2 separate regions of the Homo sapiens genome follow, and region 2 is linked to region 1. The links come from fine-mapping of genetic effects on gene expression. A gene starts in region 1. The other region holds a variant in brackets. All regions are shown on one strand. Distances are from middle to middle. Region 1 holds the start of CD63 (CD63 molecule). Region 2 holds the start of OR10P1 (olfactory receptor family 10 subfamily P member 1).

Evidence for each region. PIP is the estimated chance that this variant, and not a neighbour inherited with it, causes the effect.
Region 2: its variant is the best candidate, but not a certain one, in a credible set for the expression of CD63 in whole blood (INTERVAL, PIP 0.56).

What each region holds. Positions count from the first base shown.
Region 1 is chr12:55,721,970-55,736,867 of GRCh38, forward strand. CD63 (CD63 molecule) reads right to left here and starts at 7,040. Exons shown (of 8, transcript NM_001780.6): 1 at 6,984-7,040; 2 at 6,307-6,383; 3 at 5,182-5,370; 4 at 4,921-4,995; 5 at 4,731-4,826; 6 at 4,152-4,292; 7 at 3,844-3,927; 8 at 3,354-3,657. The coding sequence starts at 6,372. The coding sequence ends at 3,592. RDH5 (retinol dehydrogenase 5) reads left to right here. Exons shown (of 5, transcript NM_002905.5): 4 at 1,917-2,080; 5 at 2,353-2,736. The coding sequence ends at 2,576. It overlaps BLOC1S1-RDH5 (BLOC1S1-RDH5 readthrough), which reads left to right. Exons shown (of 6, transcript NR_037658.1): 5 at 1,917-2,080; 6 at 2,353-2,773. CD63-AS1 (CD63 antisense RNA 1) reads left to right here and starts at 7,125. Exons shown (of 2, transcript NR_183514.1): 1 at 7,125-7,386; 2 at 7,693-8,883. RefSeq lists silencers at 6,437-6,736, 7,007-7,386 and an enhancer at 6,866-7,472.
Region 2 is chr12:55,631,034-55,645,931 of GRCh38, forward strand. It overlaps OR10P1 (olfactory receptor family 10 subfamily P member 1), which reads left to right and starts at 5,859. Exons shown (of 1, transcript NM_206899.1): 1 at 5,859-6,800. The coding sequence starts at 5,859. The coding sequence ends at 6,800. RefSeq lists an enhancer at 5,696-6,197. The variant G/A (reference allele first, on the strand shown) is at 9,011.

The sequences.
Region 1 (14,898 bases):
TTCCAGGACTAACAGCAGCCCACTCAACAAACGTGGGCCAGCAGAGGTGGTTAAGATACAGCACATTGGAATAGTTAAGAAGAGACAGTTTAGGGCTAGACTTCATGGGTTCAATGAAGTCTACCCTTATGTAAGCTTTGTGACCATAAGTAGATTACTTCTCTTTACCCATTTTTAACGTGTTTGTTTTTTGTTTTTTGAGATGGAGTCTTGCTCTGTCGCCAGGCTGGAGTGCAGTGGCGCGATCTTGGCTCACCACAATTTCCACCCCCGGGGTTCAAGCGATTCTCCTGCCTCAGCCTCCCGAGTAGCTGGGACTACAGGCATGCGCCACCATGCCTGGCTTATTTTTGTATTTTTAGTAGAGACAGGGTTTCACTATGTTGGCCAGGTTGGTCTCAAACTCCTGACCTCGTGATCCGCCCACCTCAGCCTCCCAAAGTGCTGGGATTACAGGTGTGAGCCACCACGCCCGGCCTTGCCTCTCGTCTTTAAACAATAAGGTTCAAAGTTCCGTGGGAGCACAAAGGAGACATGATGAGGACAACGGGAGTAGGGCCTGAGTTTTTTTTTGTTTTTTTTTTTTTAAGCGTTTTGCTCTTGTTGCCTAGGCTGGAGTGCAATGGCGAGATCTCAGCTCACTGCAACCCCTGCCTCTCAGGTTCATGTGATTCTCCTGCCTCAGCCTCCCGATTAGCTGGGCTTACAGGCACGTGCCACCACTCCCAGCTAATTTTTTTGTATTTTTAGTAGAGATGGAGTTATACCATGTTGGCCAGGCTGGTTTTGAACTCCTGACCTCAGGTGATCCACCCGACCCGGCCTCCCAAAGTGCTGGGATTACAGGCATGAGCCACCACACACGGCCCAAGGCCTGAGTTCTTAGCAGGAGTATAAGGCGCCTAAGCTTAGTCTACCTTCTAAGGAAGCCTGCGTTTGTCACCATCACTCAGCAAATAACCTGAATGTCTCCTGTCTCTCAGCCTTAATTTTTCAGGCAGCATCATGGGACACATACTTTTAGTTTTGAGACAAGGCCTTGCTCTCACCCAGGGTGGAGTGCAGTGGTGCAGTCACGGCCCACTGAACTTCAAACTCCTAGGCTCAAGCAGCTCAAGCGATATCCGCCTCAGCCTCCTGAGTAGCTGAGACCACAGGCGCGTGCCAGCATGCCTGGCTAGTATTTTTTTACAGATGGGGTCTTGCTGTGGTGACCAGACTTGTCTCCAACTCCCGGCCTCAAGCGATGCTTCCGCCTGGGCCTCCCAAAGTGTTGGGATTATAGGTGTGAGCCACTGCATACTGGAACACATACTTTATACTTGAATTTTTTTTTATCCCCTTCCCTCCTGCTCCTTACCTATACTTGGATTTCTACATCTGTGCCAGGGCAGTGGGATGTATCCCCACTTTCCCCATCAGCTTACCCTCCAGCAAATACGAGACTATACCCTTCAATATCCAGCACTCAGGGCTCAACCATGTGTTTTGGGAGCAAGGGAATGGGGTTCCTCTAGGTCAGGAATCGGCAAACTCAGTACTCAAGCCAGATCTGGCCAGCTGCCTACAAGCTGATAATGGTTTTTTTTATTTTTAAATGGTTACATTGTAAACTGTTATATAAGTACCTGATAATATCATTAATTTTGTTTCTTGGCCTGCCATGCTTAAAATATTAACTCTCTGGCCCTTTAAGAAAAAAACGTGCTGACCCCTGCTCTAGATCAAAGAAAACAAACCTCAAAAATACTTTCCTCCCTCTACCCCACTTGACCCTTGTCCCGGGGCAGTAGGCATCTCCGTCAAAACTCTTGTCCCTGGTCTGTGGTAACTTTCTCAGCTCCCCAACCCATGTCCCTCAAAGTCCCCTCCCTATAGGGCAAGAACCCAGCAACTTCGCTCTGCCCCGACTCTAGGCGGGATGTAGCTCATTTTGGGATACGAGTCTCCATCGTGGAGCCTGGCTTCTTCCGAACCCCTGTGACCAACCTGGAGAGTCTGGAGAAAACCCTGCAGGCCTGCTGGGCACGGCTGCCTCCTGCCACACAGGCCCACTATGGGGGGGCCTTCCTCACCAAGTGTGAGTAGCCAGGCCCACACAGGGGCACATGAAGGGAAACAAGTACCAGAAAGGCCAGTCCTGCATAAGCCTGCTAGGAGGTGGGTGGGGCACCCAGGGCAGGGTTGAGGGTGAACAGGATGTTACAAGAGTGCCCAGGCCATGTGGAACCTGCCCACTCCCCACACTGAGGAGGGGACTGAGGGTGACAAGCCCAGGGCCCCAGAAGACAGTACCTAAGATGGGCTGGAGTGAGGAAGGGAAACTGATTGCAACCACCTATGGGGCTGCAGACCTGAAAATGCAACAGCGCATCATGAACCTGATCTGTGACCCGGACCTAACCAAGGTGAGCCGATGCCTGGAGCATGCCCTGACTGCTCGACACCCCCGAACCCGCTACAGCCCAGGTTGGGATGCCAAGCTGCTCTGGCTGCCTGCCTCCTACCTGCCAGCCAGCCTGGTGGATGCTGTGCTCACCTGGGTCCTTCCCAAGCCTGCCCAAGCAGTCTACTGAATCCAGCCTTCCAGCAAGAGATTGTTTTTCAAGGACAAGGACTTTGATTTATTTCTGCCCCCACCCTGGTACTGCCTGGTGCCTGCCACAAAATAAGCACTAACAAAAGTGTATTGTTTAAAAAATAAAAAGAAGGTGGGCAGAAATGTGCCCAGTGGAAGGCTGACCCCATTTAAGTGCCAACTACTCCAAACCGACATGCTCACGGTCTCTGGCCTGTTCAGTCCCTGCAAAACAGCTAGCACCCACAGTGGGGCGCCAGGGAACTGCCTCACATCTACAGCTGCACGTCGGGGAGTGGCCATCAAAGGGCACTTTAATACATTTCCCTTATTTTCTGAAGGGGAGTAAGGTTGCAATTCAGTGTCTGTACTGGGAATGGTCTTCATATTTCTTGGGGGAGAAGAGCAGGTGATGAGGGTTCTGGGCCAGGCTGGGTGGCTTCCATGGAAGAAAAGGCAATATTCACATAAATTCTCCTGCTAAGGACACTGACCACACAGGTGTCAAGGCAACTTATCATACTTCGAAAGGAGCTGGATCCCTTGAGGATTGGCCAGGAAGGGAGGTGCTGGGCCCTTAGCGGTGCACAGAAGGCCAGGAAGATGTCCAAGGCAGATGGGGGCTGGGCTCTCGCAGGTGGGACCTTTCTGGGGAGCTGCTTTGACTTATGCAGCAGATGGCTTCATGAATGTTCATAGTGAGCCTGGCAGCATAAGACTAGGGGGCAGAAAGCACCACAGTCTCTGGATCCTCACTTCTCCCACTGCCTGCCCAACCAACACCTTCGCAAAGTCCTCCTTTCCCAAACACCCCCCAAAATAGACCTCGAAGTACACATGCATTAAGGTCCCAGAGGACAGGGAACATCAGTAAGGAAAGGAAGGAATCAAGCATCACTCTAAGACAAACTCAGACCATCTCTTTTCGGTCTGAAAAAATAATCCGTTTAATTGAAAAACCTGGAGGATACTATTCCACTCCCCCAGATGAGGAGGCTGAGGAGACCAGACCCCTACATCACCTCGTAGCCACTTCTGATACTCTTCACGAGGCAGCAGGCAAAGACAATTCCCAAAACCTAGAAGGAAAGATGGGGACAGGGGTGGAGAGGAGTCAGAAGGGCTAGCTACCTCAGACCCATGCAAGAGACTCCAAACACACACTCCCAGGCCAGTACCTCCTGTTCAGCACCCTCCTCCCCTCAGCCCCTTCCCTCCAGGCACCCTGGACAGAGTCCCAGCCCCTGCTCAGGGTTATCTCTTACCTCGACAAAAGCAATTCCAAGGGCTGCTGCAGCTACCACCAGCACATTTTTCCTCAGCCAGCCCCCAATCTTCTCCACACAGCCCTGAAGGTGGCAGGCACAAAGGACAAAAGCACCATCAGAAACTTCCCACCCCAACCCCCTCCCTTGGTCCATCAGTCTCTTCCCTGCCCCTGTACCTTTCACCCCACCCTTAGCATTTCCAGATCCCCTCCCCATCCCTGACCCTGTCCACCTCCATCCTGGGTCTCTTGCATTCTAAAACATTTCCCAGGTTTCCCAAGTCCCATACACAGTCTCCTCCCTACCTCCTTATGGATCGCCTTCTCGTTGAAATTAATCCCACAGCCCACAGTAACATTAATGCAGCAGGAGTCGGGGACTCGGTTCTTCGACATGGAAGGGATTTTCTCCCAATCTGTGTAGTTAGCAGCCCCACAGCACTTAAACTGGGGGAGGGAAGAAATATGGAGAAGAAGGTTGTTAAGTGAACCTTCACCTTCAATATGGAGATGAGAATTCTTTTTTTTTTTTTTTTTTTTTTTTTGAGACAGAGACTTGCTCTGTTGCCCAGACAAGTGCCCAGCGGTGGCTCAATCTCGGCTCACTGCAACCTCCGCCTCCCGGGTTCAAGCGATTCTCCTGCCTCACCCTCCTGAGTAGGTGGGATTACAGGCACTCACCACCACACCTGGCTAATTTTTGTATTTTTAGTAGAGACAGGGTTTCACCACGTTGGCCAGGCTAGTCTTGAACTTCTGACCTCAGGTGATCTGCCCACCTCGGCCTTCAAAAGTGCTGAGATTACAGGCGTGAGTCACCACACCCAGCCTTGGAGATGAGAATTCTCTATTCCCACCACCCCTGCTCCCAGCAACCCCACTCACATCTGCCTGCATCCTGTCCAGGATCGAAGCAGTGTGGTTGTTTTTCGGGTAATTCTCCATCTGCTGCCGGAAGTTGTTATTAAACTCTGACATCACCTGAGAGTACGGAGGAGCACTGTTGCAGTCAGAATTCAAGCACCAGGGTCCCAGACCCGGCTGAGGCAGGCCCTTCCCATTATTCCCTGCTTACCTTATCTCTAAACACATAGCCAGCAATGGCTGCGGCCACCTCCACCAACATGATAAGAGACAGAAAGATGGCAAACTGCAGGAGCAAAGGACAGAAGTCAAGTTTGGAGTCTATGCATTACAGGGGCCCGTTTTGGCACAGCCGGTCCCTGGACACTCACAAAGGTCTTCCTCACCCACCCACCTCACCCACCTTCCTGAGCCCGAACCAAGCTGCTCTGGCAGTCCCAGACCGCCCATGTTGGTCCCGCCCCCAACTCACCGTGATCATAAGACAATAGTTCTCCTTGCAGGCCCCGCAGCAGCCCACAAAAGCCACCAGGAAGAGGAAGACACCCACTGCGATGATGACCACTGGCAACAGAGAGCCAGGGGTAGCCCCCTGGATTATGGTCTGACTCAGGACAAGCTGTGCCCCGACACCCACGGCAATCAGTCCCACTGCACAGGCCTAAGAGAAAATCAGGTGAGGATTAGGCCATATCCACAACACAGTGGCCCTCCATGGTGGAGGGCAGGGGGTACACCTAGGACACAGACTTGACCCCATCCGGAAGAGAGATTCTCACACCTCTAGGGAATTTCTTTGGCTGTGGGGTAGGGGGATGACCCATCCTTGCCTGCCCCTACCTCCCCTGATCCCCTCCCGGCTCTTTAATCAGGGACATGACCAAATTCAAAAACCTCCCAGAAAGCCTTGACCTCAAGACACGTATTTCTGACCTAGAATAATGCTTTCTACAGGCCTCCAGGGCTCCCAGCTCAATTCTCTCCCAGAACTGCCCCCTCACTATCCTCCAGTGCACATCCCACGCGCGCATCAGCTGTGACTAAGGTTCCTCTGGCCAGTTAGGCCAGGAGAAGGGAAGAGGAAAAGGGAGCAAGAGTGATGTGTCCCTCCCTAGACAAACAGTAGCCTCTCAAGCCAGGAGCCCAGGGCAGGAGCAAATTGAAGTGGGCAGAGCCCTTCCTCACCCCCAAGCGCTGGGAGGAGGGAAAGGGGGAGAGGGGCTGGACAGGGATGAGAGGGTTGGGGAGGGAGAGAGGGGAGAAGGGAGAGCGAAGGGAAGCCCCATGGCGATAGCATCAGGCGGTTGGCTGGTTGCCCCACTGCCCCATATCACAAGTGGTTGGGTCACCAGACAGGAAGGGCCAGGAGGGATGGGGGTAGGGGTTGCTGCACACCCAGGATGGCCATTCTCGGTGGAAACAAGCCTCAGGTGTCCAGGAAAACTGGAGGAGGGAGTGGCTGCGCTGTCTTTCCCTGGCTTTCTTTCCACATCTGGTCTCCAGCTGCCTTAATTCTCATTCCCTCAGCCCTCACCACTGTGGAGCCAGGTCTCCCCGCACCCTGCCGGCGCGCCCCCCAGGACCCCTCGCCACTCACGCAAAAGGCCAGCAGGAGGACGTAGAGCAAGAACTTCACACATTTCATTCCTCCTTCCACCGCCATGGCTGCCGGGCCTGGGGCAGAGGGGAGGGCGGGGGGATTAAAACTGGCCGAAGGGGGACCTCGGTTTCCGGGCTCCCGGCCGGCCCTCGAGGGCTTCCCTTCACGGCCCCGATTCCCGGCCCCTCCCACCCGGAAACCCGCGGTCGGATCCACGTCTCCCAGCCCCCTCTTTACCCGCAGGAGAGGGGTGGGGGCGACGGCCGCGAAGCCCGGACCCCGCCCCGCCGCCTCTGGGGCCCAGGACAGATCCAAGGGCGCCGGCAGGGGCTTGAGCCTGACGCCGACCCTCGGCCCGCCAGTCTCCGGGCGTCAAACACCCTTTCCCCACCCAACACCCAGCCTGGAGAAACGGTCTTCAGCCCAACCCCGACCCCCGCCCCAGCCCCTTTCCCCTGGGCTCTGACCTCCCCGCCCACCAAAAAAAAAAAAAGTGCAGCCAGCACCCCCGCCACACCCTGCCCGGGCCCAGGGAACTTCGAAGCAAAGTTGCTCCAGGGCGGCTGGAGAGCGCCGGACGAGTCTCCGCGGGCCTGGGGCGAGCCCTGGAGGAAGGGACTGCGGGTGGTCTCTCCCAGCCCGCGCCGAAGTCCGCCGGGTCCCCGCGGCCTCACCTGGGCTTCCCAAGGCTGGCTGCGCGTTCCTCTCCCGCCGCGGCTCCGGGGCTCTCTAGCTGCGCCCCCCGGCTCCCGCCCCGCCTGCCGCGCGGCCCCGCCCCGGGCTCCAGCCACGGTCCCCTCCCCCGCCGAGTGGCCGCCGGCCTCCCTCATGTGACGCGGTAACAGCTGCGGCCTGAGTCACTGGGCCCGGCGCGGGGTGGGCCGAGCCCCCCGCCCGGCCAGGGCCACGTGGCCCCTACCCGGAAGAAGGCGCCCACCCCCGCAAAGGGAAAGCCGCAAGGGCAAGACCTCGGGGCGCCTGGGGCCCCCCTCTGGCGCTATACCTCCGTGCCAACTCGGGGTAGGAGAGCGGGGCGGAGCGCAGCCTGGGTCACTCTGGTTCAGAGAAGCGGACGAGGTGGGTGAGAGTTACCCTCTGAGCGCCGGGGCGGAGAGCTGAGGCCGGGTGACAATGTGGTCTGTGAGGTTTCCCCATCCTACCGTAGGGGATGAGCCAGCTCTCTCCTCTGGCTCCAACTCTGTGCAAGCCCCCTCCCCATCCGACTGTGCAGACAGCTGGGGACTGCCTGGGGTCGGGTGGGGCCAGAACAAACACTTCCAGAAAGTCCCTGGCTCACATCCTGGGTGTCTCCCAACATTCTACAGCATTCTAGAGTGGGGATTTCTGGCCCCCCTCTATTAGCACAGCTTCTCCATTTTCCAGGGATCCTAGTCTGAGAAAAGGGGAGGAAGCCCTTCCCCGAAGCCACGCTACCCAGTCAATCAAGACACGTCCGCGTCGGGTCCCGCCCTCTGGGGGAGGATTGACAAGGTCTGTGCTTCCAGCCTCCCAGACAGCTCCTGCATCCGTCTGTGATAGCGAGGGCTTGGGGGAAGACACGAAGGCAGGAGAGGCTTACATCCTCTGGATTTCCCCGTCTTATCCCAGAAGACAAAGCCAGGTGAGGGCTGGAAGCGGGCTAGGGGGATCAAGCTGCCTCCCTCCCTTGTGTGCCAGGGGTGGTCCCCAGAAGGAGCTGATCTGAACAGGCCGGAGAGTAGGACCGGCCGTCACACCCCCACACCTCCAGCCTCGGCCCCACTCCTTGGGCTCTTAAGGTCCTGCCTCAAGAACCACTTCCTGAGTCTTAGTGTATGTGTGTACACAAAGAATGAAAGAAGTCTCTAGAGCTAAAGGAAGGAGATCCGGGCTGGGCTGAGAAGCATCTTCCAGGATCACGGCCTTCCCGCGGGACACACCAAGCCCATTCCGGATCTTGCTCTTCCTGACCATGGCTGGCAGGCTGTGGAGGAGGAGCGGAGAGCAGAAGAAAGGAGTATTCATCAGGTTCCTTATTGTGCTGCCACTAGATGCCAGGCATGTGCTAGGCTTGGGGGCTGCAAGGAGAGGAAGACAGCGGCCCTGCCCTCTGCTAGCAGGCAGAACCGAGTTCTGGCCACACTGTGAAGAAAGGCAGAAGCCTGCGGTGGCAGCTGGTTAAGCTCAGAGGGAGGGAAAGGGAGAGGAGAATGGATTTCACGGAGCAGAAGGATGTGCTCAAGGTGACCTTGGAGAATAAAGGGGAGAGCTCCAGGGACAGAGAAGCAGTCGACTGTGGAAAAAAAAGGAGCATTTTGTAAAGTACATGGCAGGTTGGGGTTGGCTGGCTCAAAGGGCTTGGGACGGATGTGGTGAGATGGGCTGAAGGTGGTCTGAAGATCAAGATTGAGAGACTAGATACATAACAACCAACTGCAATGTTTGGTCCTTCATTGAATGGTTGAACAAACCAGCTGTGAAAGACATTTTGGGACATACAGACATGGACTGAGAATTAGACATAAGAAAATTATTTTGTTAACTGTTATCATGGTTAACAAAACGGTCATATAATATGATTATGTAGAGAAGTTACTCTAGTTTTTCCTCTTTTTTTTTCTTTATTCTCCTATCAGCCAATGCATTTGTTACAGGAAAGGGGTCCCAATCCAGACCACAAGAGAGGGTTCTTGGATCTCATGCAAGAAAGATTCAGGGCGAGTCGCAGTGCAAAGTATAAGCAAGTTTATTAAGAAAGTAAAGTGGTGAAACAACAGCTGCTCCATAGACAGAGTAGGATGTTCCCCAAAGTAAGAGGAGGGGCTAGGCGCAGTGGCTCACCACACCTGTAATCCCAGCATTTTGGGAGGCCTAGGCAGGTGGATCACCTGAGGTCAGGAGTTCGAGACCAGCCTGGCCAACACGGTGAAACCCCGTCTCTACTAAAAATACAAAAAGTAGCTGGGCACAATGATGTGTGCCTGTAGTCCCAGCTACTCAGGAGGCTGAGGCAGGAGAATCACTTGAACCCAGGAGGCAGAGGTTGCAGTGAGCAGAGATCGTGTTGCTGCATGCCATCCTGGGCAACAAGAGTGAAACTCCGTCTCTCTTTTTTTTTTTTTTTTTTTTGAGACGGAGTCTCGCTCTGTCACCAGGGTGGAGTGCAGTGGTGCCATCTTGGCTCACTGCAACCTCCGCCTCCCGTGTTCAAGTGATTCTCCTGCCTCAGCCTCCCAAGTAGCTGGGACTACAGGCACGCACCACTACGCCCAGCTAATTTTTGTGTTTTTAGTAGAGATGGGGTTTCACCATATTGGCCAGGATGGTCTCCATCTATTGACCTCGTGATCCGCCCCCTCAGCCTTCCAAAGTGCTGGGATTACAGGCGTGAGCCACTGTGCCCGGCAAAACTCTGTCTCAAAAAAAAAAAGTAAGAGGAGGAACACATTCACCCTCGGTATAATGCTTGTATATATGGAGAGATGTGCTCTGCTACAAAAGTTTGTGATAAAGGATTAATTTTCTTAATTACTGTATTTTGTAAGAATCGATATTATCTTTTTTATTATTATTAATTTGTTTCCTTAACCATAAACATCTAGGTTTTTTGTTTTTGTTTTTGTTTTTGAGATGGAGTTTTGCTCTTGTTGCCCAGGCTGGAGTGCAGTGGCACAACTCACCACAACCTCTGCCTCCCAGGTTCAAGAGATTCTCCTGCCTCAGCCTCCTGAGTAGCCGGGATTACAGGCATGCGCCACCATGCCTGGATAATTTTGTATTTTTAGTAGAGCCGATATTGTGCCATTGCACTCCAGCCTGGGCAACAGAGCGAGACTCTGTCTCAAAGAAAAAGAAAGAAAGATGAAAATGTTGTGGAGATGGATGGTGCTGATGGTTGCACAATGTGTATGTACTCAATGTCCCTGAATTTTATGTTATATATATTTTACTACACACATACACACAAAGAATGGCCCACTTCTACAGCCTGGAAAGTTGACACAGAGCTCCATGTGTTTGCTGGGGTGCAGGATAGAGGGGCCTCTTAGTGGGAAGTGGCTGATCTCAGACCTGGCCCTTCACATCCTTCAGATCCCCCAGCACCTGTTCCAAGTGCCTGACATCCAGATATGCCACCAAGCCGTCCTGGCTGGCCCAGGCTGCTGCCTCTTGGTTGCCTGGCACCAGTTGGTGGTAGGTGTGCTGAGGCGGGGACCCTTGTCCCTCCACACCAAGCAAAGCCAGCTTTCCCTCCAGCTTCACCACGCCTCCACCTAGGCCCAGCGACACAGCATGGGGGCCACAGATGTCTCAAGCAAACCTGCAGCCTTCTGAGAGCATGTAGGCATCAGCCAGACCCAGTGCCATGCACAGCAGCTTGTAGCCTGCATCTAAGCACAGGAAAGGGTGAGGGGATATGAGGAGGGTGAGGGGATATGAGGAAGGTGAGGAAGAAAGAAGGGATCCAGAATCAAGGGAAAAGAACAGTTGAGGAGAGTTGGGAGAGGGGTGAGGAAAAACCGGAAAGTGAGAGACATAGAGGAGGGTGGGAGGCATGGGGAAGGATGGGGGAAGAGGAGGCAAAAATACATGAAGGATCAATGCTTCTTGGGCTTCAGTTTAAAAAACATTTTCTTTAATTTTTGAAAAATAGGTGTAAGAGAGGAGTGGGGAGAGGGAAGAGGAAGAGATAGGGATGGGAGGGAAGAAGGAAACAAGGATGCATCATCAAAGCCATCCCCCCACTGGGAGGGTAAGGAGAGTGGTGGATAAAATTCAAGGTCCAGAGGTTGGGTCTGAAATGGGGGCCTGAAATTTAAGTCCAGAGGCCTCAGCTTTGGATAAGGATAGAGGCACGGTGCTTGATGGCATCTCTCAGATCGCAGGGTGAAGGAGGGGCTGCACCTGCGCGTTTGCAGGTCCTGCTGGCAGAAAAGCTCATAGACCATCCCGCAGGGCTCTCCAGAGAGTAGGTTATATGCCCCAGCACCAGCACTGAGTGCAGCCCCCAGGGGAGTACTGTGCACGGGCTCCATGGCGACATCACCACTATGTATTTACTGGTTGGTGGAGACTGGGGAACACAAAGGAGTCTCCAGGCCAGGCGCGGTGGCTCACGCCTATAATCCTAGCACTTTGGGAGGCCGAGGCGGGTGGATCACCTGAGGTCAAGAGTTTGAGACCAGCCTGGACAACACAGTGAAACCCCATCTCTACTACAAATACAAAAATTAGCCAGGTGTGGCCAGGGCGGTGACTCACGCCTGTAATCCCAGCACTTTGGGAGGCCAAGGCAGGCGGATCACGAGGTCAGAAGTTCGAGACAGCCTGACCAACGTGGTGAAACCCCGTCTCCACTAAAAAATACAAAAATTAGCCGGGCATTGTGGCGCACGCCTGTAATCCCAGCTACTCAGGAGGCTGAGGCAGGAGAATCACTCTAACCCCGGGAGGCGGCGGTTGCAGTGAGCTGAGAACACGCCATTGCACTCCAGCCTGGGCAACAGAGCGAGACTCTGTCTCAAAAAAAAAAAAAAATTAGCCGGGCGTGGTGGTGCACACCTATAATCCCAGCTACTCAGGAAGCTGAGGCAGGAAAATTGCTTGAACCTGGAAGGCAGAGGTTGCAGTGAGTCAAGATCATGCCACTGCACTCCAGCTTGGGCAACAGAGTGAGACTCCATCTCAAAAAAAAAAAAAAAGGAGTCTTCCAGTCACTGGGTGGCCATCTCTGCTCCAACTTTTTGGGGGAGGCCACACCCTTCATAATTGGCAAGACTACATTACCATGGTATCCAGAAGAACATATTGCCAAAGTCCCTTTTTTATCTCACTTCCAGGAAAGTGGGGCTCAGAGAGGTAAAGCCACTCACTCAGGGTCAACAGATCAACCTGCACGTAAGAATCTGGGTCTTTTTTTTTTTTTTTTTGAGATGAAGTCTCACTCTGTCACCCAGGCTGAAGTGTAGTGGCACTCAGCTCCCCAAAACCTCCGCCTACCAGTTTCAAGTGATTCTCCTGCCTCAGCCTCCCGAGTAGCCGGGATTACAGGCTGTAGCCCGCCACCACACCTAGCTAATTTTTTTAATTCTTTTTTATTTTTTTCCGACAGAGTTTCGCTCTTGTTGCCCAGGTTGGAGTGCAATGGCGCGATCTCAGCTCACTGCAACCTTTGCCTCCCAGGTTCAAGCGATTCTCCTGCCTCAGCCTCCTGAATAGCTGGGATTATAGGTGCCCACCACCACGCTGGCTAACTTTTTGTATTTTTAGTAGAGACGGGGTTTCACCATGTTGGTCAGGCTGGTCTTGAACTCCTGACCTCAAGTGATCCACCTGCCTTGGCCTCCCAAAGTGCTGGGATTACAGGCGTGAACCACCACACCCTGCCAGGGTCTTGATGTACCACTCCAGTGCTGTCACACCTGCCGCCAGCAAGAAGCTCTCTGAGGCCAGAAGCCCTGGTGTGAGACCTGGTTCTGCTGCTCATGAATGGGGTGACCTCTCTCCCTGAGCCTCAGCTTTCTCCCAGTTGAGTAGGAGGGAAACAACTCCCTTCCCCACCTCACAGGGCAGTTGTGAGGATCACAGAATAAACTAAGGGAATTGGTTTTATTACTTTAAGAATGGTGGCCAGGCCGAGTGCAGTGGCTCATGCCTGTGACCTAGCACTTTGGGAGGCTGAGGTGGATGGATAGCCTGAGCTCAGGAGTTTGAGACCAGCCTGGACAACACAGTGAAATTCCATCTCTACTAAAATACAAAAAATTAGCCGGGCGTGGTGGCATGCACCTGTAGTCCCAGCTACTCGGGAGGCTGAGGCAGGAGAATTGCTTGAACCTGGGAGGCAGAGGTTGCAGTGAGATCACAGCACTGCACTCCAGCCTGGGTGACAGAGCAAGACTCCATCTCAAAAAAATAAAAAAATAACAGAAAAATGGTGGCTGGGCACAGTGGCTCACACCTGTAATACCAGCACTTTGGGAGGCTGAGGCGGGCGGATCACCTGAGGTCAGGAGTTCAAGACCAGCCTGACCAACATGGACAGGCCCCCGTCTCTACTAAAAATACAAATTAGCTGGGTGTGGTGGCACATGCCTGTAATCCCAGCTACTGGGGAGGCTGAAGCAGGAGAATCACTGGAACCCGGGAGACGGAGGTTGCCGTGAGCCAAGATGGTGCCATTGCACTCCAGCCTGAGCAACAAGAGGGAAACTCCGTCCCAAAAAAACAAAACAAAACAAAACAAAAAAAAGGAACGGTAAGGCTTGGCTGGATGTGGTGGCTCACACCTGTAATCCCAACACTTTGAGAGGCTGAGGTAGGAGCCCAGGAGTTCGAGATCAGCCTGGGCAAGACGGTAAAACCCCATCTCTATAAAAACAAAAACGGTCGGACGCAGTGGCTCACACCTGTAATCCCAACACTTTGGGAGGCCGAGGCGGGTGGATCACCTGACGTCAGGAGTTCAAGACCAGCCTGGCCAACATGGCGAAACCCTGTCTCTACTAAAAATACAAAAAAATTAGCTGGGCATGGTGGCATGTGCCTGCAGTCCTAGCTACTCGGGAGGCTGAGGCAGGAACATTGCTTGAAACCGGGAGACGGAGCCTGCAGTGAGCCGAGATCATGCCACTGCACTCCAGCCTGGGCAACAGAGCAACACTCCTGGATCAGCCCATCTGCCAGCGTTTTGAGGTCCTTCTCCAAAGACCTCAAAAAACAAACAAAAAAGAATGATGAGGCTTTATCATACCCTGTTTTCAGACTCATGGGAATTAAAATGATTTTGCTTTGAGAAATATCTGGATACCCCACCCCAACTGACATAGCCAAGGTAGGGGTGGGAGGGACAATCCAGCCTCCTTCTGCCCCTCACACTCACCTTGGCCTTGGCCTTGGCCTAGACCCCCCAATTCAAGCCCCAAGGTCTAGCTCCTCTGGCAACCCCACACTCCAGCCCCACCCCCACCAGGATCTGTCCTCAGGGCCCGCCTCAATTCCTTTCCCCATTTCTTGGGCCCCTAGTTCCTGACCTCTGGCCCCTCATTGTCACTCCTGTCCCAGTCTCTTCCCAGCCAGTGCCATCATTAACAACGAGGTCCATCCAAATGCCCAGCTGGTGAGTGGGCAGGATGAACAGCTCCAGCCCATCCTGCTTGAGAGCCTCGTCCAGGTTCATGTCTTGTTTATGCACTCCCTTGGCCAGGATCTTAGCTGCTGTGTGGTTCTGGCCCAGAACCAGGCACAGGAGCACAGAGGTATCTACCTGAGAGTCACAGAGCCTCACAACTAAAGTTTTTCCTAGGATGGAACAGAGATAAACATAGGAGAAATGACAAAGAGGTGATGCTGGGACTGGGTGGTTATCTCAGGTTTCTGTTCCTTGGGACTAAAAGGCCAAGAGGCCTAGGCAGGGGCTCAGGAAAAATTCATTCATGTATTAATCCATGTATGGGGAGCCTAAACATGGAGATAAGTAAGACATGTCCCTGCCTTCAGGGTGCTTACAACCTTATAGGCACAGACAAAAAATACAGTGTGGTGAGAGGGCTATGACAAAGAGAACCCCTGGGTTCTGGAAGCTGCCTAGCACAGGCTGGGGGATGCAGT
Region 2 (14,898 bases), 91 kb before region 1:
AAGTTGTTGGTTATCTCGATAAGAGAAAATTCTGGAGTGGTAGGGACAATTGGAGAAAATGAGAGATAAAAAGTGGAGACAGCAAGTGTCAACTAGAGGACATCAGGGATTTAGGCAAAGGCCCAGGTTATCTCAGATAACACCTCTGTTCTATCCCCAAATGTCACCACCTTCCATCATCCACCACACCGTTTCTATGCTGAAAATATTCAGAAGGCTGAACTCTCTGTGTAAGTTCCCCACTCAGCACATCTGCAATGACATAGGAGATTGGGGATTGATGGAAACCCAGCTCTCCCTCCTGTGAGCCCCTGGATAAGCAGACAGGCAGTCTCCTCACTGGAACACTTTCTTCCAAAAAAGCAAACCAAGCATGGAGATCAATGACATCACTGGCATAGCCTCTAGAATTCTCCAGGAGCATCTACATTTAACAGGAAGCTGAGATTTCACTCACGGGAGTTAATTCCCAGGATGAGACTCTAGACATGAGGGACAGAGACCCTCAAACCTCATGCCGTCTGTAACCAAAGAGACCCTTCATGAGTGGGGAGGCAATAGTTATCCCAGAGAAAAACGGTGTCAGGAAGTTGACCAAGGGCAATGAGCCTAAGGACAGGAGGAGAACACAGCAGGCACTGGGGATCCAGACAGAATTATCTGGCCCATGACACTGTCTCAGCTCAGGGTTACCCAGGGAAACCCCAAGAGTCAGGGGTTCCCAAATCTCCAGCAGGGTGGAGGCACAACGCCAGCTGGAGAATGACTATGGGCGCCACAGAGGCTGAGGCTTCCTGGGAGGAGAGAGGGCAACAGCAGAGCCTCCCCTGTGCCCAACAGCCCGCCTCCCTGGCAGGATGACAATTTCACCTCCTTGGGTAAGTGCTCCACACAGTGCCAAGCAGCCTTGGGCCTTTCTCTGATGCATCTAGACCCTGCCAAAAACAGGAAGAGAAGAGGAACAGTGGGCAGATCAGGGCCCATTCAGGGCCTTAGGACCTCTTGCTGTGTGTTGGGAGTCAGTATCTGTCCCTGGGCGTGGGAGAAAAAAGTCCAGAGACGGTTCCCAAATCTCTACTATTGCATTTGCAGAGGTGTGATTCAGATATCATTAAGCTGGCTGGACAGGGAGAAGGGCTGGGAAGGAGACAGAGAATGTTGGACAATTTCTGCCAGATAAAACTGCACATAACAGAACAAGGCAAGTGTGTATATACGCAGACTGTGCAAACCTTTTATGTATGGTGTGAGTAGGTATGCTGTGGGGTATGTGTAGCATGTTATAAGTGTGGTGATCGTGTCATAGGCATGTCTGTGGTATGTCTAATAGGATGGGGTGTGTGGGGTGAAGTGATGGAGTGAGGCAGTGGATAGTGTGTACAGGCTTGTGGGTTTGCGTGCAGTGTGTAAGTCAGCTGGGCATCACAGCCTCAGTACTGTCTATGGTCAGCATCTCTCAGGCTCCTGTTAATGGGTCCCATCCCAGATCCCACAGACAGCTGCCTGCATCCTCCTTTGCTGCCCCACACCCTCTCCAACACACACACATATACACCATGTGCAGCTCCCATTAATACTTTAGACAAAACAAAAAATCTGAAAGAACAAAAGCTAGTTTATTGCCTGGCTGTGCTCCCCCAGACCTCTCTGACCCAATAAATGTTGTCCTTCCCTCATTTCCCCCATTTCCCGCAACCCCATTAGGCTCCAGAATCCCAACTCCCTTGCCCCCAAGATGTCAAAGCTACCCCTCAAGATCTGCTTTCTGTTCCATTCAGCCTTTAACAGCCTCATCTCCTGCATCCAGGGGTCACGGGTAACCAGTCCTGTAGCCAGCCAGCCACACCCTGCTGGTCATCCTCTGTCCATCTAGCTGGTTAACCACAGGTTAGCTGTTCCCCAAGCCACATGCCCATTCACTGATCAATTTGCCATCTGCCTGTCTCTCTAAGGCTTATTGGAGGTATACGGATGGTTTTATGGTTTTAAAAAGAGCCACGGAAGGGGGAAATGGAGAATTGCTTAATGGGTATAGAGTTTTCATTTTGCAAAATGAAAAAGTTCTAGAGCTCTGTTGAATATACTTAACAATACTGAGACATACACTTAAAATGGTTAAGATAGTAAATTTTATGTTATATGTTTTCACCACAATAAAAAATAGTGTTTTTTAAAAAGAACTTCATCCCCTCTCTGTGACCCTGCGGGCAGTTACTCTGTCTTTCTCAGCGATCCTCTGTGGGAGGCTTTGAAAAGTTTAGTGGTGACTTCAGGGCCAATGTCTCTCTGAAGATTGTCCCAACTGTGTCAGGATGTGTGGGAAGAGGAAAAGGGAAATTATCAGAGTCAGAGTGGAAATAGGGAAGGAAGAACAGACAATCTGGGGGAAACTTGCCTCTCCACCCTCACGGACGACATCTTAAGGCAAAATCTAATTAGAGGTCTGAGAGTGAAGAAATGCTCACAGTGTGGAAAAGGTGAGGTGAGTATGGAGGGAGGGACAGGCCTGGATGAGGACAGGGAGGGTCAAGGAGTCCAGAAGAGGACAGGGTGAGAGAGGGCTGAGGGGAAAAAAAAAAAAAAATCCTATTGGCACAATGTACACTATTTGGATGACGGGTGCACTAAAATGCCAGACTTCATCACTATACAATTCATCCATGTAACCAAAAACCACTAGTACCCCTAAAGCTATTGAATTTTTTTTAAGGGACCTGTTTTACTAAGAGATGAAAGGTTGGTATTGCCACTCATGTGTCCAGCTACAGGAATCCAAAACAATTATAACACAGCGAGACCCATAAAAATGTCCACATGCTTAGCCAATAATATTACTCTTAATTTACCCTAAGGGAATAAGCTAACAGAGCAAACTGAGACACACATGAAAATATTGTTTTCATCATTGTCTACCATAGCAAAAAAAAGATGGGACAGCGTAAAGTGCACAAGGATGAGAAGCGTTTGTTAAATGTTAGTGGAGAAATTCAATGGACTACTACAAGAATTTTTTTTGAAAGATTGTTCAGAATACCATGCGGTCTCATGGCAAAATGCTTACAGCAAACATTAAAAAAGGAAAAGAAGACATAAGGTATATACACTATGACTACAAGCATAGAATATGGGTTTGCAGTGGGACAAAGACTTGAGAGTGATATATGAGAAAAAAAGAATTTAAGGTGATGGAATAATGGTGGATTTATTCCAAATGTTTCCTAAATATTTTTAATTGAAAAAAACAACATTTTAAAAATTTGAAAACATCAGGATCTATTTCGTGTTTTCTTGGTGGTGTGGACATCTGAAAAGTTTTTTTTTCCTTTTTAATCAGCCAGCCCAAAATGTCATGAAGATTTATGGACGAAAGTAGAGAGGACTAATGAACTCAGATACTCCTTCTGTCCAAACTGACTACATGCAAGTTCATCTCCCAAAAGTGTAGAGTGAGGCTATTGGCCTCACAAGACATATAGTAAGTATGTGGTTGATACCTCAGGCTCAAAATTACAATTCTGGTTCTGCTGTTCACTGACTTTGTGATCTTGCATAGGTCGTTTAAACCCTCAGAGCTCTGGTTCTTTATCTGCAATGACAAAATAACAATTGTCACTAATGTTGTTATAAAGGTCAACTGATATACTGTATAATCCCCAGCACACAGCACTCTCCAAACATAAGCTAGAATAAATGGTTTAAGGCCACAAAAAAAAAAATATGTTGAGAGAGCAGAGTGAGGGTGGGATGAAAGTTAAGTGCAATGGATAGAACTTTGAGGCTCTGTTTCCTAAATATGAAGATGGCCAGACTAACCTCATGGCGTGGGTCAATATGGGTGATCAAAGCTCCGTGAATCTTGGGACCAGGACTTCTGAAAGTCCAGTCCAGTTTCCTGTCTTTGTCAAACTAGCTGCCTAAATTTAGGCAAATCACTTAATTGTTCTATTTATCAGTTCCTCTGTCTTTATAACTGAGATTCGTTCACTCATCTAATAAATGTTTAGCGAACACTCGACATGGTCCAAGTACTGAGCTTGTTTTTCTGGTGATTAACCTCTTTTTTTTTTTTTTTTTTTTTTTTGAGGCAGAGTCTCACTCTGTCGCCCAGGCTGGAGTGCAGTGGCACGATCTCGGCTCACTGCAAGCTCCACCTTCTGAGTTCACGTCATTCTACTGCCTCAGCCTCCTGAGTAGCTGGGACTACAGGCGCCCACCACCACGCCCAGCTTATTTTTTGTATTTTTAGTAGAGACGGGGTTTCACCGCGTTAGCCAAGATGGTCTCGATCTCCTGACCTCGTGATCCACCCACCTCAGCCTCCCAAAGTGCTGGGATTACAGGCGTGAGCCACTGCGCCTGGCCTTGGTTTTTTTTTTTTTCTTTTTTTTTTTTTTTTTTTTTTTTTGACTGGTGATTAACCTCCAAGGCAGTTGATAACTTGGTGGTTAAGATCACAGGCTCTGGGGTTAGGCAGACCTGGATTTGAACCCAAACTCTGTCACTTACAAAATGTGTGACATTGAGAAAGTTACTTAACACTGTCTGGGCTTCCCTCTCCTTATCTGTAAAATGGAGAAAATGAAGGTTTCTATGTCGTAGTGTAATTAGGAAGATCCAATGATTTAATGAATGTTTAGCCCTTAGCATGGTGCCTGGCAGGAACCAAGCACTTGGGAAACATTAGCAGCTGCTAAAATAGGTAACTGCCTCCCCACCTCCCCACCACGTCCTGCAGGATCTCACAGTGGAGTAATAAGTGCTAGGACAAAAGGACAAGCAACATCTCATGAAAGCAGAGATAAAAGTGCCTTCCTCAAATACTCAAGGGCTCTCTGGTGCAAGAGGAGTTAAATATTGTATGAAATACTAAGCATTTAGCCAAGACCAATACAGTAAAGTCTTTTCCTACAGGCAGAAGAGGCCATAGCTAGAAAGGGCTACCTCAATAGGTGGTGAGTTCCCCATCACTGCAGATGTTCAAACAGACTCTGCACAGCACCCTTCTAAAATGTTGAAGATAAGATCCAAGTACTGTCATATGGAAATATATGTTCCTAAATGTCACTTTTAATCTTGAAATGCCATGGATAATTATTTCTGAGCCTGAGGATCACAGAAAGCTGCCACCGAGATAGCGAAACTTGAGTGAAGGCTTGAAGTGTGATGGGATTTTAATATGAAGAATAGAAATATCCTCTGAAAGGAGACACTATGGCAATGCATGGAGGCCTGACAGAACAGGGTGTGCTGGGACAGAACAGCTAGTGTAGCTGATCACAGGGCCCCAGATAAGAGGAGAACAGAGAAATCAGGGAAGGTGTCAGAATCCCAATGATACCATTGGGCAGTATTATCACAAATAGTCATATCACTGTGTGACACTCTTAACCCACAGCTCACTATGGTGAACATTAGACACCAGTTCGGGACAGTCCCTGGTGCTACCCAGTTTCTTTTGTGCCTCAGCATCCATCTAGAGAGTACAAAGGGGCCTAGGTCATAGCAGCTGCTTCACCCCTCACTCTGGAGAGAGATCCAAAGATCAGAGCTAGAGTCTTTACATATGAGAGTCAGGCCCCAGACACAGGACGAGAGCCCAGGAAACAGTGAGAAAGGCGTCGAATTTGGAGTCAAGAGACCTGGATTCAAGTTCCAGGCCTGCCACTTTCTAGATATTACCTCAGACACATTATTTAATCTCTCTGAGACCCATGGCTCATTCAGAGAAAGGTATTAATTCTCTCACTTGATTTTGAGAGGAACTGTGTGGCAAGTGCTTTACCAAATTACAGAAATGTTGCTTGTTATTTCTAAATAACTTCTCTTCTTGGCTGTGCCTCAGCTTCTGGCCTGGAGTGATGGCTGGGGAAAACCATACTACACTGCCTGAATTCCTCCTTCTGGGATTCTCTGACCTCAAGGCCCTGCAGGGCCCCCTGTTCTGGGTGGTGCTTCTGGTCTACCTGGTCACCTTGCTGGGTAACTCCCTGATCATCCTCCTCACACAGGTCAGCCCTGCCCTGCACTCCCCCATGTACTTCTTCCTGCGCCAACTCTCAGTGGTGGAGCTCTTCTACACCACTGACATCGTGCCCAGGACCCTGGCCAATCTGGGCTCCCCGCATCCCCAGGCCATCTCTTTCCAGGGCTGTGCAGCCCAGATGTACGTCTTCATTGTCCTGGGCATCTCGGAGTGCTGCCTGCTCACGGCCATGGCCTATGACCGATATGTTGCCATCTGCCAGCCCCTACGCTATTCCACCCTCTTGAGCCCACGGGCCTGCATGGCCATGGTGGGTACCTCCTGGCTCACAGGCATCATCACGGCCACCACCCATGCCTCCCTCATCTTCTCTCTACCTTTTCGCAGCCACCCGATCATCCCGCACTTTCTCTGTGACATCCTGCCAGTACTGAGGCTGGCAAGTGCTGGGAAGCACAGGAGCGAGATCTCCGTGATGACAGCCACCATAGTCTTCATTATGATCCCCTTCTCTCTGATTGTCACCTCTTACATCCGCATCCTGGGTGCCATCCTAGCAATGGCCTCCACCCAGAGCCGCCGCAAGGTCTTCTCCACCTGCTCCTCCCATCTGCTCGTGGTCTCTCTCTTCTTTGGAACAGCCAGCATCACCTACATCCGGCCGCAGGCAGGCTCCTCTGTTACCACAGACCGCGTCCTCAGTCTCTTCTACACAGTCATCACACCCATGCTCAACCCCATCATCTACACCCTTCGGAACAAGGACGTGAGGAGGGCCCTGCGACACTTGGTGAAGAGGCAGCGCCCCTCACCCTGAAGGGACTCGGATGTCTGCTCACTCACTCAGTGCTCATCCTCCCACTCTTCAGGGACTGGATTTAAACCCCACTCTCACAGAAATCATGCAGCACCTCAAAGGAAAAGGCTTCCTGGAAGAAAGTGCTGAAATTAAAACAGAGATAAATCTACATATTGCCTCTTATCCCAGAGTCCACACTCACTATCAGAGCATGGGTTATTAGGTCAAGGTAGAATGAAAGTGATTGCTGCCCTAGGGAAAGGACATTTATTTAGCATCTTCTAGATTGTTCTGGATCCCTGAGCACAGTGATTGCCATGGCTGCACCGGTAGCCAGAGGTCCATGTCAGTCATGAAAGCAGGTGTCTGTGAACTTGACATCCAACTAAGTGGCCCACCCAAAGCCTGTGGAGGAGTTTACCTAGCCCCTCTGTTACATTTTCTTCCACCACCTGTGTCTGAGCTTTCCTCTACTCAGTGGAACATCTGTTCTCCCCTTGGCCTTCAGGAAGAGGGGCATCTGAGGGTTCCAGTCATAAGGCTCTCTCCTTCCCAAGATACCAGCACAAAAGGGAAGATGGTCAGATGGTATCAAAAAGGACCAAGTTAAACATCAGGAAAAGTTATCTCCCAGGACAGCCTATACATGTCTCCCAGAAACACACTGGGGTGTCCTACTGTGGGTGCTTTTGGGAAAGAGCTGGTCAGGGATTCCAGAAGACCCACCAGCTTGAGAGGCAGGATCCAGAGCTGGAGCTAACCAGGGAGCCAGAAGCAAGACAAGGTGGAAGGAAAACACTCCCATCCCTCTGTGCTGAGGTGCCACCGGCTGCCCACTTCCCTCAGCCCAGGGACAGATGTTTCTCCTGCTTTATTCCCTGGAGCCCCCCATAGCTAAAGGGCAGCAGAAGGCCGAGGCAAAAAGACAGGCTGTTCCACGTCCCCTCTATTCCCTCACCTCTCACACATCATTACCACCTTTGTGTCCTCTAGCCAAGAAATGCCAGAAACTCTGGCTTTCAGTGAGGAGAGACCTCAACATTTCATCAATAACATGAGCTGTTCAGGAAATGATGGGAACCCAGTCTTCCCTCTTACCACCCCTGTGATCTTCAAGGAGTCCTTATCCCTCACAGAGGCTCTGCTCTTGTGCGAAGGAGTATTCAGCCATGGGAATCAGTGTGTTCTTCTGTAGCCCAGCCTCTGCACCCACTTCTTTCTTTTCTTTTTTCTTTTTTTTTTTTTTTTTTTGATGAAGTTTTGCTCTTGTCGCCCAGGCTGCAGTGCAAAGACGCAGTCTCGGCTCACTGCAACCTCCACCACCTCCCAGGTTTAAGCAATTCTCCTGCCTCAGCTTCCCAAGTAGCTGAGATTACAGGCACGCCCGGCTAATTCTGTATTTTCAGTAGAGATGGGGTTTCACTATGTTGGCCAGGCTGGTCTAGAACTCCTGACCTCAGATGATCCAGTCAAAATAAGTCTCATGAAGTTGTTCTCATTCCTAGAAATAGAGAGTAGAATGGTGGTTACCAGAGCCTGGAGAAGGAAGTGGGGAAGGGGACATAGGGAGGGATTGGTCAGTGGATACAAAGGTACGTTTAGAAGGAATAAGTTCTAGTGTTCTATGGCACCATAGGGTGACCTCAGGTAACAATATTGTATTGTAGATTTCAAAATAGCTAGAATAGAGAATTTTGAATGTTTTCACCACAAAGAAATGATAAAGGCATAAGGTAATTATAAATTTAGAAAGGGAGATTTCTTTTTTTTTTTTTTTCTAAGACAGGGTCTCACTTTGTCACCCAGGCTGGAATGCAGTGGTATGATCTTGGCTCACTGCAACCTCAGCCTCCCTGGTTCAAGTGATCCTCCAGCCTCAGCTTCCCAAGTAGCTGGGACTACAGGCACATGCTGCCATACCAGCTAATTTTGGGGTTTTTTTGTCTGTTTTTGTTTTTTTGTAGAAACGGGGCTTCACCATGTGGCCCAGGCTAGTTTCGAACTCCTGAGCTCAAGTGATCCATCCACCTTGGCCTCCCAAAGTGCTAGGATTACAGGCGTGAGCCACCGCCCCCAGCAGGAGGCTTTATTTCTTAAAAACTGTTACAGCATGTAAGGTGGCCATTCTAACAGGCTGGGAAGCATAGGCTCCAGCCAAAGCCCAAAAGGCAGGCACTTCGAGGGAGAGGCAGGTGGAACAGGGATTTATGTGCTAAGCAGGTTGGCCA[G/A]GTGTACACATTCAGTAGGTTACGGGAGGAGCTAGGAATATTCCTGAAGGTGGTCCTAACATGTAGGTGCTAAATAAACATATATGTAGCATATGACCCATGTTCACCTTGGGGTGCAAACTTAACATTTACGTGCATTACAATTTAGACCCTTACATCAAAAGGTGAAGCAGAGACACAAAGGCATTCAAGTGTGCAGCCTCTGTAAACTGGCCAGAAGCAGCCCCTGGGCAGTGGTCTTCTTATCAGGAGAAAGTTACTGAAATCAATCATTTGGCCAATCAAAGCTGTAGTTATGGCTTGTGGAACAGGGGAGTCAGCCAGTAAGTGTCTGGTGGTGGAGGAGCTACAACTGTTTTGCTATTGCTTATCTCGAAGCCAGAGCTTGTTTAGCTGCTAGAGAAAAAGGAAAACCTTGTGGCAGTTAGAACATAGTTTATTCTTTAAGTGTAGGAATGTGTGACTTAACCTTTGCCTGGCATGGCCTTAAGTCCTGTTCATAATTTGATATATTATTGCCACAAAGAGTCTATTCTGTCAATCTCATGACCTCTATTTTAACATTAATGCTGGTCAATTGTTGTGTCTAAACCATAGAAGAGAGGAGGTACAATAAAGTGTGTCTGACCTTCTATTCCATCTTCTAGATTGTTCTGGATCCCTGAGCACAGTGATTGCCATGGCTGCACCGGTAGCCAGAGGTCCATGTCAGTCATGAAAGCAGCCATCATGGCTGAGGACTCCGTTTTTAAGGTTTCTCAGTGGGTGGGGGGCGTGGGATTTCATCTTTAGTTTACAATATGCTAAATATCTTGATTTACTTATTACACAAGTGTATACATGTATTAAAACATCACAGTGTACCCCACAAATATGTACAATTATTATGTATCAATTAAAATAATAGGCCAGGTGCAGTGGCTCATGCCTGTAATCCCAGCACTTTGGAAGGCCAAGGCAGGAGGATTGCTTAAGACTAAGAGTTTGAAATCAGCCTGGCCAACATAGCGAGACCCTGCCTCTATTTAGGTTTTTTTAATTAAAATAATAAAACAAAATAAATGTCATACTCCCTGCATTCACCACTATCACCCAGTTACAGACAGAGGATCCATACAAATTACAGGTCACTCCAAGCAGGGGCTCACCATTTGAAGGGAAAAGAGTACATGTGGCCAAAGGCAAGACAGCCTGAAAGAAAAACCAAAGAAGGCAAAAATGCTCTCTACAGTACCATGAGTAACTAAGGTCACTCCTCCACCTATGAAGAAGCAAGTCAGGGGCCAGAGAGGACGGCAGGAAGTGTTTCTACACTTGTTTCTCTCTGGGAGTGGAATAAAAAATCCCTTCACCTTGTGGAAAGCCTAAGGATCAGGGTAATTACTAGTGCTCCCACCTCCACTGGGTACAGACCATAAGGATGTTGTGGGCCACTTGAGAACTTGGGGGCTCATCCTCAGTGACAAGACCAGGTTTGAGTTTTTAAAAGATCACTCTAGCTGTGGTATGGAAAATAGGTAATAGAGGCACCAAAAAGAGACACAGAGACCACAAACCAGTCCATCAGTCAGGGCACTTAGTTGCAAACGACAGATTCCACTCTGATCATCTTAAGCAGAGACTAATTATTCAAAGAAGATTTCACAGTGCACAGCGTCTCCAAGGGGAACAGGTTTACCAGCCGTGTGGCCAGGGTGACACTCAGCACCCGCAAGGGCAGCTCCAGTGTCAACTCCACGGCACTGGCAGCACAGTTCACACAGCACTGCCCAGTGCCTACAGCTGGCTCTCGGGACGACAGGCCTGGGCTCTGCCAGATGCCTTCCCTACAAGCTCATTAGATGGTGAATTCTGCATCCTCCTCTGTAGAATCTGGAAAAGCAATTTACCTTGGGGAATGAAGACCAGTGAGGCATAAAACTTCCCAAACATTGAAAGGGTGTTCCAAAGGCACTGGACAGACAGAAAAAAAGACAAATGTCCCCCAGAGATGCCACTGCTGCAACCAGGATCCAGGTGGCCAAGACACTCTCTACTGAAAAGATAGAGAGATACGGTGCAGTGATCTGGAGCAGGCAGAACTTGGAGATGATTAGAATCTGAACAGGAAGCATGGAAAGACAGTCAAACCAGAATGAATAGTAATAAGAATAGGTAACATCACATACATGCTAGGTACCAAAGACTATACTAACCTCTTAACCTGTAACTGTCTTATTTAATCCCCATAAAAACTCTACGAGGTACAGATCTCAATTTTATGGGACCTAAAGCTCATACAATTTAAGACAGCTCTATTTAATAAAAAATATCCATGGCTACTTCAACACCCCCCAGAAGAAGAGGAAATGTGACAGAGAGGAAGCAAGAGTGAAAAAGACAGACATTACAACAGCCTGCAGTTAACACATCACTTCTGCAATTTATATAAGGACATTTGACCACAGGAACACAATTGCTAAGGCTCTTTCCACACCTTTATGAGGAACCCATACAAATGAAGAGCCCCAAAAGCTTAAGCTTGACAGTAGGTCCACCTGTAGGTCAACTCTATTGTTATGCCAATTTCAACCAGTTGAGGAAACCGAGGCACAGAGACATTAAACAACTTTCCCTAGGTAACACAGCTAGGAAATAACAGACTTGAGTTTCCAGCTCTAGAGCCCATGCTTTCAATTCTCCCTCCAAAAACGTGAGTTTAGAGAAAGTAGAAAGATGAGGGCAGCCAAGGAGCTAAGGAGCATAAACAGAGGCAAGAAAATGAGATCAGTGACACACGGTGTGGGGGGCGGGGACAGGAGAGCCTCCTCTGCTGGAAGCCACTTCCTCTCATCTGGACTGGGTATGCAAATCTTGAGAAAGAAAATGCAATTTTTCCCGTCTCATAAGCAGAGAAGATTCCAGAAGCCACTTGCTGTTGCCTGGCAGGGCACAAGGTCACCCTTCTTATCCTGCCTCAGGGTTACATCGGCTTTCTCGCTCTGCGCCACCAAATCCACAGGCACCTTCATCAGGTCACCACCCCGTAGAGCACCACACTGGTCCATTCTATTGATGAAACTACACTGACAGCATCTGGAGAGAGGAAAATGGCAGGTACCCTTGATGTACATTTATAACTAGGAGATAAATTTAGGGGCCTGGCCTCTCTGTGAAGGTTTTCTGGGGATATCAGGGTATCTCCTCAAATGTTACGGACAAGTTGCCTCACCTTTTGCTCCCTACAGTAAGAAAAGACCTCTTGTAGTTATCTGGATTTGGGAAGCGACATATAGTCCTTTTGGGTTGGCTGCTTCAACCCACTTATCGGATGTCCTAAAAGCCAGAGGAAGCAAATGCTCTCCCAGTGGCCCACGCTGCAGTTCCGCCACTGGGCCTCCCAACTGCCCAGCAGACTGTAAGAGGCTCAGTGTCAGTGGCACTGGAGCCTGCGGTAAATCCAAGAGGTGAATCACAGATTTGGGAGCCAAACCTTGCCCTTTGGGGCAAACAATCAAGATCCTTTTGTGAAACTGCTCTTGGGCTGCTTGTAGGCAACAGTATACACTGAACAGCTGACCACTGGACACCAGGTGACTATGGAACAGTATTGCACACCATGAATTGGGTGTAATTTGACCCACTCACCCTAAAGTTAAGTATCCCCAATAGCACTTAATAGACAAGTGAAATTGGTAAAATCAGATGGGGCCCAAGCACAGCCTGAAAACAAAAGGAGGTTGCATATACCTCATTCTCCAGCAAATCAATCTTTTTGGGGGGTATGGGGATGTGGGAGCAGGAGCTTGCTCTGTCGCCCAGGCTGGAGTGCAGTGGTAAAATCAAGGCTCATTGCAGCTTCGAACTCCTAGGCTCAAGTGATCCTCCCGCCTCAGCCACCCAAATAGCTAGGACCACAGGCACATGCCATGACCTCCAACTAATTTTTTATTTTTACTTTTGTAAAGATGAGGGCTCGCTATGTTACTCAGGCTGGTCTTGCACTCCTAGCCTCAAGTGATCCTCCCACCTTGGCCTTCCAAAATTGCTAGGATTACAGGTGTGGACCACTGAGCTTGGCCCCAGTTCATTCTTAATAGGCCTACAAATAGAAGGGTCATAATGGCAGGAAAGGAGGCCATCCATGAACTTAACAGGGTCTTCCCCCCAAGCTCTAAGTGGATAGAGCTTGTGGGGGACAAAGCTCTATCCACTTCTACAGAAGCCATTAGGCCCAAATTTGTGGATTCTCTAAACTCTGACAGCCGAGACACAGCCCTGTGATCTTAGCTAGTCCTAGCAGATGCAACTGCCTAAGACTTTGAATCAGGTGCAAGTGATTCAAAGAAGTAAAGTTTACAATTCATTTTGGTGATGACCACAGTGGCATCCAGGCCCACCAGCAGCAGCCTCAGCACCTGCACGGTGCCAGAGGAGTCACGGGCAACAGTGCCAGCAGTGCCTGCAGCATCCTAGCCAACCACCCCTGTGCTATGACCTGGCCTGTGGTTCTGGCCTCTCAGCTTCTTTTGGTACCTGATCATTGCCTAAGCCTGGTTTTCCAAGATTCCTCTCAACTCCTTGAGCTACCAGAGTCAGGTTTTCTCTAACCCAGAATTGTTCACCTGCTTCTTTCCTCCTCTTTCATGGCCCCTATGGCCCATCTGATCCTTTCTGAGTTATCCCCCTCATAGCTCACACCAGGATTTCCTCTTTTCCAAAAACTCTCTTCCCCAAATCCCACACACACTTCTCCCCTTCCTCTCTTCAGCATTAACACATTTTAAACTTTCCAGCAACTTTAGGGGGATTTTTTTAACAAAGTCTCAAACTTTTAAGACATCTAAAAACTGCTCTGAAAGTCATCATCAAAGTTCATAAGAAGGCAAATGATAGTAGTAGCAATTATAGTATAATCGAAATAGATTAGTGAACACTATTACCTACATGCACTGTGCTAAGCAGCTTTCATATATTCATTTACTTATCGATTCAGCAAATATTTCCTGAATACCTACTATGTGCCAGGCACTAGGGATACACTGGTAAACAAGACAGGCAGTTTCTTCCCTTCCCCCTTTATGGTACATCTCATTTTAATGAAAGGAGAGAAGCCACAAACAAACAAGTTAATTTATATGTCAAGTGATGATGTGGTATAGAATGGCTGAGGAAGGCTGTGTTTAATCCTCACAGCAACCCTGTGATACATAGAAACGATTATTGTCATGACTTTACAGATGCAGAATTTAAGGCACAAAGATGTAAAGAAAACTCCCACTATTTCAGATGGTAAGTGATGATCAGGATTTGATCTTGGACTTGCCAACCACCAGAGGCAAGCTCCAAACCACCCTGTCATAGTGCTATCTACAACCCAGCCTTCTGGTCAGCCTTCCTTAGCCAGCTCCTTATCCTCTACTCCTAGACTTTCCACTAAAAGAAAGAAATCTATTCTCTTCTTTGATGTCCCCTACTCCCAAGGACAGACATGGGCTTTTTGCTCCCTGGTATTCATAGTGTACTTCCAGTCCAAATATGTCCCACCCAGTCCTTGGTAAACTGAGGAAAAGTGAGTTTGTGTCTTCATTGGATCCTTTCTGCATCATAAGAATATTAAGTATCTATACCTTCCCCATTCTTCTCTTCCTTGCCACACTGTCTTCCACAATGGTTGAACTAATTTACACTCCCATCAGCAGTATACAAGTGTTCCTTTTTCTCCACAACCTCATTAGCATCTGTTTTGTTTTTGTTTTTTGCTTTTTAGTAATAGCCATTCTGACTGGTGTGAGGTGGTATCTCATTATGGTTTTGATTTGCGTTTCCCTAATGATCAGCGATGTTGAGCTTTTTTTCATAAGCTTGTTGACTGCATGTATGTCTTCTTTTGAAAAGTGTCTATTCAT